2 separate regions of the Homo sapiens genome follow, and region 2 is linked to region 1. The links come from fine-mapping of genetic effects on gene expression. Tissue or cell type: whole blood. Region 1 holds a variant in brackets; the other region holds the start of a gene. All regions are shown on one strand. Distances are between the middles of the regions. Region 1 overlaps PRDM4 (PR/SET domain 4). Region 2 holds the start of PWP1 (PWP1 homolog, endonuclein).

Region 1 (4,395 bases):
ATACTGTTCCTTAGCAGAGTGGAAAGTGTAAAGAATAGAGCAGAAGATTTACGGAGGAGGACACTCATAAGCTTGTGAAAGTGAAGTTGTAGTAAGAATAGAGAACAATATATAAAGGGAGCATCCTCTCTGCCAATGCAGAAAGAAAGACCATATGAAAAATAAGAAATTAAGAATTTTAAGCAAATAATGTCTGCAAGAATACAATTCTTCTGCCCTTTGAAAGAGCAGGCTGCAAATTGTTTTTGTCTTAAGAATGTGTCCTCAAAACTTGGTTGACCATCTTGTTTATAGTGAAGCAAAAGAGTACAGTGGTGTAGCTGGCTCTGACGCCAGTGTCCTATGTTCATAGCATAGGTCACTGGGGTCAGAGCCAGCTGTACCACCGTGGCCATATTTTGGCTCTGCATAACTAACAGCATTTCAACTCAGTTTCCTCTTACAGTTCAGAATTGGAATCTTTTGGACTTTAGGGCATCATACCTAAATGTACGATCTACTTAATGTAAGGGATAATGTACTTGATTGTTGAAGTAATATGGTGCTATTTTTTTCTTTTATTATTATTTTTAATTTTTTTTAAACAGATGGGATCTCACTGTGTTACCCCAGGCTGGTCTTGAACTCCTGGACTCAAGTGATCCTCCCTTCTCAGCCTCCCAAACTGCTGGGTTTACAGGCGTGAACTACCATACCCAGCCAATTTTTCATTAGTGTTTCTCTTATGCACTGAATAGGAAACTTGTCCTGTTGGATCAAAAGAAAAAAAATCAGATCTTACTGAAGTCTGAAGAGTGGTGTAAGAGTAGGTATATATGTTAGTGTAAGGAAGTGAGTCTTTGATAAGAATATCTCTATTAGAACCGTGCTTCTTACTGGATACATTTTAGTAATTAGCATTTAAATTAAAACCTGGGGCTGGGCATGGTGGCTTACACCTGTAATACCAGCACTCTGGGAGGCTGAGGTGGGTGCATCATCTGAGGTCAGGAGTTCCAGACAAGCCTGGCCAACATGAGGAAACCTTGTCTCTATTAAAAATTCAAAAATTAGCTGGGCATGGTGGCACACGCCTGTAGTCCCAGCTATATGGGAGGCTCAGACAGGAGAATCGCTTATACCCGGGAGGCAGAGGTTGCAGTGAGCCAAAATCGCGCCATTGCACTCCAGCCTGGGTGCAGAGCAAGACTTTGTCTCAAAAAAAAAAAAAACCGTGGTGGTAATTTAGCCTGCTTGAACTAAACCCATTTGTATTGCTCAAATTTGCCATCTACAGGGTGTACTCTGTGTGACCGCGCCTATCCCTCGGACTGTCCCGAACATGGACCAGTGACTTTTGTTCCTGACACTCCAATAGAGAGCAGAGCAAGGCTTTCTCTCCCAAAGCAGCTTGTTCTCCGTCAGTCAATTGTGGGAGCAGAAGTTGGTAAGAACCTTGGAACTGTAAAACACTATTACATCTCTTCTTCCTTTGTAGCGTAGAGTTGTAAAAGTGGATGTGTATAATTTAGTAATTATTTGGACCAAAAGTCAATTTATGGCTTAAGATTTATGCTTTTATGGAATATTAGTCTTGTCCACTGATGATAGCAATAAATCAAGTCAAAAACTTTATTGGGAAATCTCTCCTTTGTTAGAATCAGTATTGAGTAAAGCAAAAAATCCTAGACTGAGTCTTTGAAGATTTAACTTTTATTCTCATCTGTCTCATCCACTAACAATTATTCTAACAACACATTTCTTAAAACTTAGTTTCTTTTATAGAAACATGGAAAATTCACCTTATGACACAACTTTAGATCAAATGTTTGTAAATTATATAATGCTCCTTAGATAAAAGGAATAAAGAATGTAGATTGCCAGACTTTACTTACCCATATTTGAATTTAGCATGGCTTCTGAGTTACTGCGACATTTCTTTGGAAATATAAAATTAGGTTCATTATTCTTTTAGCTGCAGTTTGGGTGTGAGTCATTTCAAAGCATCAAACAGTTTAGGTAAAATAGAGCAGTGCTTTAAGCACAAAAGATTTTAGAAGTCTGATTTATTTCTATAGTAATTGCTTTATATTTTTACAATAGAATAATGTTTTCTGTTATTTTTTATTTATTTATTTTTAAGAGACTGGGTCTCACTCTGTTGCCCAGGCTGGAGTGCACTGGCCTAACATAC[G/A]GAGTACAGTAACTCGAGTGCAGCCTTGACCTCCTGGGCTCAAGCAATCATCCTGCCGCAACCTTCCAAGTAGCTGGGACTACAGGCATATGCAATCATGCCCAGCTAATTAAAAAAAAAATTTTTTTTGTAGAGACAGCATCTCACTATGTTGCCGAGGCTGGTTTCGAACTCCTGGCCTCAAGCAGTCCTGCCTTGGCCTCCCAAAGTGTTGGCTCATTATATGTGTGAGCTACAAACTTTTTTATATTTAACTCCAAAATAATGTATTTGGAGAGACATGAAAAGATTCCCTTTGGATAAAACTAGGTTCAGGAATTCCTGATATTTCTTCTTACTCAGCATTTATTGTGAGCCCTATGTTATCTGTTCATTACATTTTATATATTTACAGGGCTAGGACCCACAAGGCTTAGTCACCTCTGAGGAATGCTAGCATATTGTTTTTTTTATTTTTTTATTTTTTTTGAGACAGAGTCTCGCTTTGTCACCCAGGCTGGAGTGCATTGGCCCTATCTCTGCTCACTGCAACCTCCGCCTCCTGGGTTCAAGCAATTCTTCTGCCTCAGCCTCCCAAGTAGCTGGGACTACAGGCGTGCGCCACCACGCCCAGCTAATTTTTGTATTTTTAGTAGAGACCGGGTTTCACCCTGTTGGCCAAGCTGATCTCAAACTCCTGACCTCAGGTGATCTGCCCACCTCGGCCTCCCAAAGTGCCGGGATAACAGGCGTGAGCCACCACGCCCAGCCTACATATTGGTTAAATTCATTGAAAATAAGATTCTTTGCATGGGTGAAGCACCTCTTTCTTCTGTATCTTGCTGTTTAAATCATTGATTGTGTAGTTGGTGTCCTTCCACTGACAGGTGTATGGACTGGAGAAACCATTCCTGTGCGGACTTGCTTTGGACCTCTAATTGGCCAGCAGAGTCACTCCATGGAAGTAGCAGAATGGACAGACAAGGCAGTTAACCATATCTGGAAGGTCAGTCCTGATGAAACTTTTCTGTGGCTTTTGGCTGTTTTTCTTAGTAAGAGGTAGTTAAAAAGTTATGATAAAGTCAAAATCAGCCAGAACTGATACAGTGCCATTCACTGGTCAGTCATTTATTTCACGTACATTTTTTTAAATGTTACATTCATCATTCTTGGTAGCCAAATTATAACATACAGCAAAACACCAGCTACTGGAAATAGAGGACAAACTGTTTTTGTCTCTGTTTTGTGAGTTAATCCAATTATTTTAACCATTTAATGCATTTGAATTACTTGTGACTGCTGAGGCCACAGACTTTGTTTGTATGATAAAAGTCTTACTTTGTAATTAAAACATTCCTCAAATGTTTATCTTAGGAAATAATTCTGGAATAAGAAGCTAAGATTATTTTTCTAGTTTTCTTTTTTTTTCTTCCTTGAGATGGAGTCTTGCTCTGTTGCCCAGGCTGGAGTGTAATGGTACAATCTTAGCTTACTGCCACCTCTACCTCCTGGGCTCAGGTGACTCTCCCACCTCAGCCTCCCAAGTAGCTGAATTTACAGGCACTTGCCATCATGCCCAGCTAATTTTTGTATTTTTGTAGAGACGGGGTTTCCCCATGTTGGCCAGACTGGTCTTAAACTCCTGACCTCAAGTGATCTGCCCACCTCAGCCTCCCAAAGTGCCGGGATTACAGGTGTGAGCCACCGCACCTGGCCTATTTTTCTAGTTTTCTAATGAGGGGTTAGAAATACAACATTTTCACATAGATATCTATTGGGAATGATGCTTGCGAAATTGAAGTAAGGAGAAAATGGGTCTTGTGATCTTTGGAAAGGTAAGGTACCACTGTCATTGGGAACTTTAAATTTGGAATGCTAGGCCCAAGTGGGAAAATCATGACAAGGGATGATCCTCTGCCCTTAATGGACATTCAGTCATTCAGTGCCTACTGTGTGATAGGTGATGAAGACAGGTGGACAGGTAGACTGGTTTTTTGTCTTTTCCAGGCAAAGGTTGAATAATCAAAAACAAAGTCAGTCTCTTCACTGAGCACTAACTGTAGGTCTCTGATGGTCTTTATGTATTGCTGGAAATAGGGAGAATGTTGAAATGATAGCATGTTGGAGAAGTAGGAATATATTTTCCCACTAAGAAAGCTGGGACCTACTGCAAATGAGTAAATGAGGTGATTGCTGGCCTAAGTGTAATGTAGTGCTTTATTGCATGTCAGTGCATTTGACAT
Region 2 (4,395 bases), 60 kb after region 1:
TGTGTGGTACTCGTCTGGTTTTCTTCCAACCATCTCTGACTCTGTCTAGGGCACCTCTCCCTCTCTTCCCTGTGGGCATTCCTTAACAAATCACCCTTACATGAGTCCTCTGTTCTTTTTTTTTTTTTTTTTTTTTTTTTTTTTTGAGACGGAGTCTCGCTCTGTTGCCCAGGCTGAAGAGCAATGGCGCCATCTCGGCTCACTGCAACCTCCACCTCCCGGGTTCAAGCGATTCTCCTGCCTTAGCCTCTTGAGCAGCTGGGATTACAGGCACGCGCCACCACGCCCAGCTAATTTTTGTATTTTGGTAGAGACTGGGTTTCACCATGTTGGCCGGGCTGGTCTGGAACTCCTGACCTCAAATGATCCACCTGCCTCGGGCTCCCAAAGTGCTGGGATTACAGGCGTGAGCCACCGTGCCCGGCCTTAATTTTAATTTTTAAGAGATGTGGCATGGTCACAGCTCCCTGCAGCTGTGAACTCCTGGGCTCATGCGATCCTCCCACCTCAGCTTCCTGAATGACTAGGATTACAGGCACGAGCCACCGCAACTGGCTTGTCCAATTTCTCTCATTTGGTCCAAGTTTTCCTTTCTAGGATTTCATAAATTCAATCTCTTTTTCCTATAAACTCTTCAAATAGTGGTTCCCAGACTTATCTGTACATCAGAATCACCTAGGGAATCTTAAATAATTTAGGCTACACTACAGGCTAATTACAACACAATACTTGGGAGTGGGACATAAACATCAGTATTTTTTGAACCTCCCCAAGTGTGAGATTTTCAATGTGTAGATTCATTTGGAAATCAGTCTTCAAGTATTTGAAAGGCTATATGTCTCTTTTTAATAACTGTTTCCTCCAACAATTTTTATATGAAATAATTTTCTGTCCCTATTCTATAAATGTAACACCGAGTGCCTACCATCAACCAAACCCTGGAGAAACAGTAAATAAAACAGTCTGTGCCCAGGTGGAATTTACAACTACTGGGACTACTCCAATCCGTCATTCCTGTTAACTCCATGTCCAAGCCAATCACATTCCTATCACCATCATCATTATCTTGGTCAAGTACATTCAAATCAACCCCTTTTACTGTTTGGTAGAACTTAACTCCCACTGACATACTATATGTGCACATGTCGACTCCATAAAGGCAGGGTCTTTTTCTATTTTTTTTTTTTTTTTTTTTTTTTTTTTTTTGAGACGGAGTCTCACTCTGTTGCCCGCCCAGGCTGGAGTGCAGCTGTGCGATCTCGGCTCACTGCAAGCTCCGCCTCCCGGGTTCACGCCATTCTCCTGCCTCAGCCTCCCGAGTAGCTGGGACTACAGGCATCCACCACCACACCCGGCTAATTTTTTGTATTTTTAGTAGAGACGGGGTTTCACCGTGTTAGCCAGGATGCTCTCGATCTCCTGACCTCGTGATCCGCCCGCCTTGGCCTCCCAAAGTGCTGGGATTACAGGCGTGAGCCACCGCGCCCGGCGGGACTTTTTCTATTTTGTTCATGCCTATCCCAGGACCCTGAACAATGCCTGGCCTACAGAAAGCACTTAGTATCCAATGAGGAAATTACTTAAGTAATCGTCACCTCTGCTACAGTCTCAGTCTCCAACTCTTGTAGGTTTTTCATGTGTTAGACATTTACCTCTCATCCTCCCTGCTACCATCAACATCTCACTTGGATTACTGCAAGAAATTCCCTATTCATCTCCCAGCCTCACGACATCTTAGCCTCCACACCAGTTTTTCTACACCACATTCATCCTCACTCCTTCAGACACGGAGCACAAGAGTGGAAAGTGGAGTTTTCATGCTCTCTTCCCAGTTATGCTTGAAAATGCACTTGGGTGCTAGTGAAGCTAGTGGTGTTGTCAAAAAGCCTTTTGGGGTATTACCCACCAAAAACAGCAGCCCACCCCTTTCCGGCCCGCTAAGTCCATGTGCGTGCGAATTTGGGAGTGGGGTTGGGCTTGAGGGTGGGAACAGTGAGAAGGCGCGGCCCTTGACTCTCCAGGCTCAGGCGAACCAGACCTTCTGAACTGCAGCTCTAGTCGCGACAATCCGGGCAAAGCCGCCCTCACCCCAGCCAGTCGCACCAGCCAACGCCCCGAGTTCCGGGTCCACGTTCCCCCAGCTGGGCGGACCCCCAGTGCCGTAAAGACGCTGCTCCCCTTGTCTCCCAGCGACCAGGCCTCACCTTGTCTGGTGTCTCTTTGGCCACGCCGCAGCGGACCCAGGCCACGCACGTCACCTGGCGGCTGCGGTTCATGGTCCTCAAGTCAAGGGCGTGTCACGCTAGAAACCAGGCTGCATAGGGAGGGACCACGACCGCACTGCTGCCACACGCTCAGGGATCTGCACAGGGCCGCTGCCAGGGCAGAGCGCATGCGCAGGCTCCTGTTTGGGCAGCGTCGGCGCTCATTTCAGACGTCATTCTGAGGCGCCGAATGAGAAATAGGAGGGGACAAAATGGAAGCGGAAGCAGCCGGGCGAGGAATCCACGTGGGCTGGTCTGGGCTGTGTGAAGTATAGAGAAAAGGCTTTTCAGGACTGCATGTGACGATGCCTGCGGGCTTTGTAAAGGCCAAGAAAATATTTGGGACTGTAGGGGTCAGTCAGAAGCAAAGTTTCACCAATCTTTATTTTGCTTGCAGTTCCGTAGACTTCAAGCTGACAAATGGCAGAGGTTTGTGGTTTGCGTTTTTTAAAAAGCTTTCTCCAAAATGAATTTGTCGTTTCACGGAGATCCCACCATTACATCTCATTACATCCCTAAATGTTACTTTCTCACCTTAAAACATTTAGCACCAAAAAAAAAAGTGAGAAAAAAACATTTAGCACCAATTATATACTAACTATGCAGTAGTGATTTAGTCTTGGCAAACACAAAGGGCTTACTTATGTTGAAGGCGCTGTTTTGAGTGCCGTATCACGTGATTACTTACCCCTTTGTGGGAGGTCTTATTTCCGTTTTACACCTGGGAAAACAGCGATCCTTCCAAAGGTCACACTGCTAGTAAGCGGTGCAGCTGGGATATGAACCCGGGCAGTGTGACTCCCTTGTATCTATGTCATGCTTCTCAGCTAAGATCAGTCATCTGTTAGAACTCGTGAGTGGCTGGACGTTTGTAGAATGGAAAATCTCAAACTAGCATCCCAGAAAAATCTGGGTTTTGATCTCTTGGCTGTGTGGCCCTGTCCTGGTCATTTACCCTCAATGCATCTACCTCTGAGAGAGGCAAGCAAAAGAAACAGGAAGGTGGCTGCTATGGGGAAACAGTGGCAAGGATAAACTGGCAGTACACATGGTCTTTCCCAGTGGCATTGTCAAACGGGGGGTGTCCACCTGTGGGCTCTATTCGGGGACCTTTTTGCAACACATTTATCTTTCTATACAGTATTTTACTTGGTTCTCACAACACTTTGTTTTAAAGATGAAGCTAGAGTCCCCAGTAGTCAAATACTTTCCTACTCAGATCACACACAGAGGAGCTGATACAACTATGAGTTCTGTCACCAACTCTACTCAGCCTAATGCGCTTGGCAATCTCCCTGCCTGAGGAGAGATCCTCCCAGAAGTAAATTGCTCATTGTTTGTGTAGGCAGATTATTTGTCCATTAAGACTTCTCCCCCTGCTCTGTTTCTGTAAGATGATTCTTCTGTGGTTTCTTTGCTTTTAACCCATTTTAGAAAGACCATATGGCAGATAATATTTTTCAAGGATGGCTGCAACAATAGAGTCCTTCACACATGTTTGTCTGCAACGTGATCTTGATATTCCTCCATCAAAGCACCCCCCCCCGCCCCCACCAACTTGAATCTGGGTAGTTGTAGGTCTGCTTTGGCCAATAAAGTATGACAGAAATGATGTTTCCAAGGTTAAGTCATAAATAGGATGCAGGTTTTGCTTCCCCACCACCACACCCACTTCTCCACTTCCACACCCCCCACCCACTCCCCCACTGCCCACCAGTAGAACACTAATGTTTGGAGCCCTGAGCCACCATATAAAGTTTGGCTACTGTGGTAGTCTGTTCTCACACTGCTAATAAAGACATACCCAAGACATGATAATTTATAAAGAAAAAGAGGTTTAATGGACTCACAGTTTCAGTTGGCTGGGGAAGCCTCACAATCACTGCAGAAGGCAAAAGAGAAGAAAGGCATGTCTTACATGGCAGCAGGCAAGAAGAGAGCATGTGCAGGGGAACTCCCCTTTATAAAACTATCAGATCTCAGCTGGGTGCAGTGGCTCATGCCTGTAATCCCAGCACTTTGGGAGGCCGAGGCAGTTGGATTACAAGGTCAGGAGTTCTAGACAAGCCTGGCCAACGTAGTGAAACCCCGTCTCTACTAAAAATATAAAACTTAGCCGGGCATGGTGGTG

The links. PIP is the estimated chance that this variant, and not a neighbour inherited with it, causes the effect.
Region 2: PWP1 starts here. The variant in region 1 is the best candidate, but not a certain one, in a credible set for the expression of PWP1 in whole blood (TOPMed, PIP 0.62).

What each region holds. Positions count from the first base shown.
Region 1 is chr12:107,743,306-107,747,700 of GRCh38, reverse strand. PRDM4 (PR/SET domain 4) reads left to right here. Exons shown (of 12, transcript NM_012406.4): 6 at 1,277-1,426; 7 at 3,040-3,158. The region is part of intron 3 of PRDM4-AS1 (PRDM4 antisense RNA 1); the gene reads right to left. Among named protein-coding and RNA genes, the nearest start is that of PRDM4-AS1, 8.9 kb to the right of the region's middle. The variant G/A (reference allele first, on the strand shown) is at 2,174.
Region 2 is chr12:107,683,781-107,688,175 of GRCh38, reverse strand. PWP1 (PWP1 homolog, endonuclein) reads right to left here and starts at 2,377. Exons shown (of 15, transcript NM_007062.3): 1 at 2,205-2,377. The coding sequence starts at 2,276. RefSeq lists enhancers at 2,039-2,088, 2,309-2,568.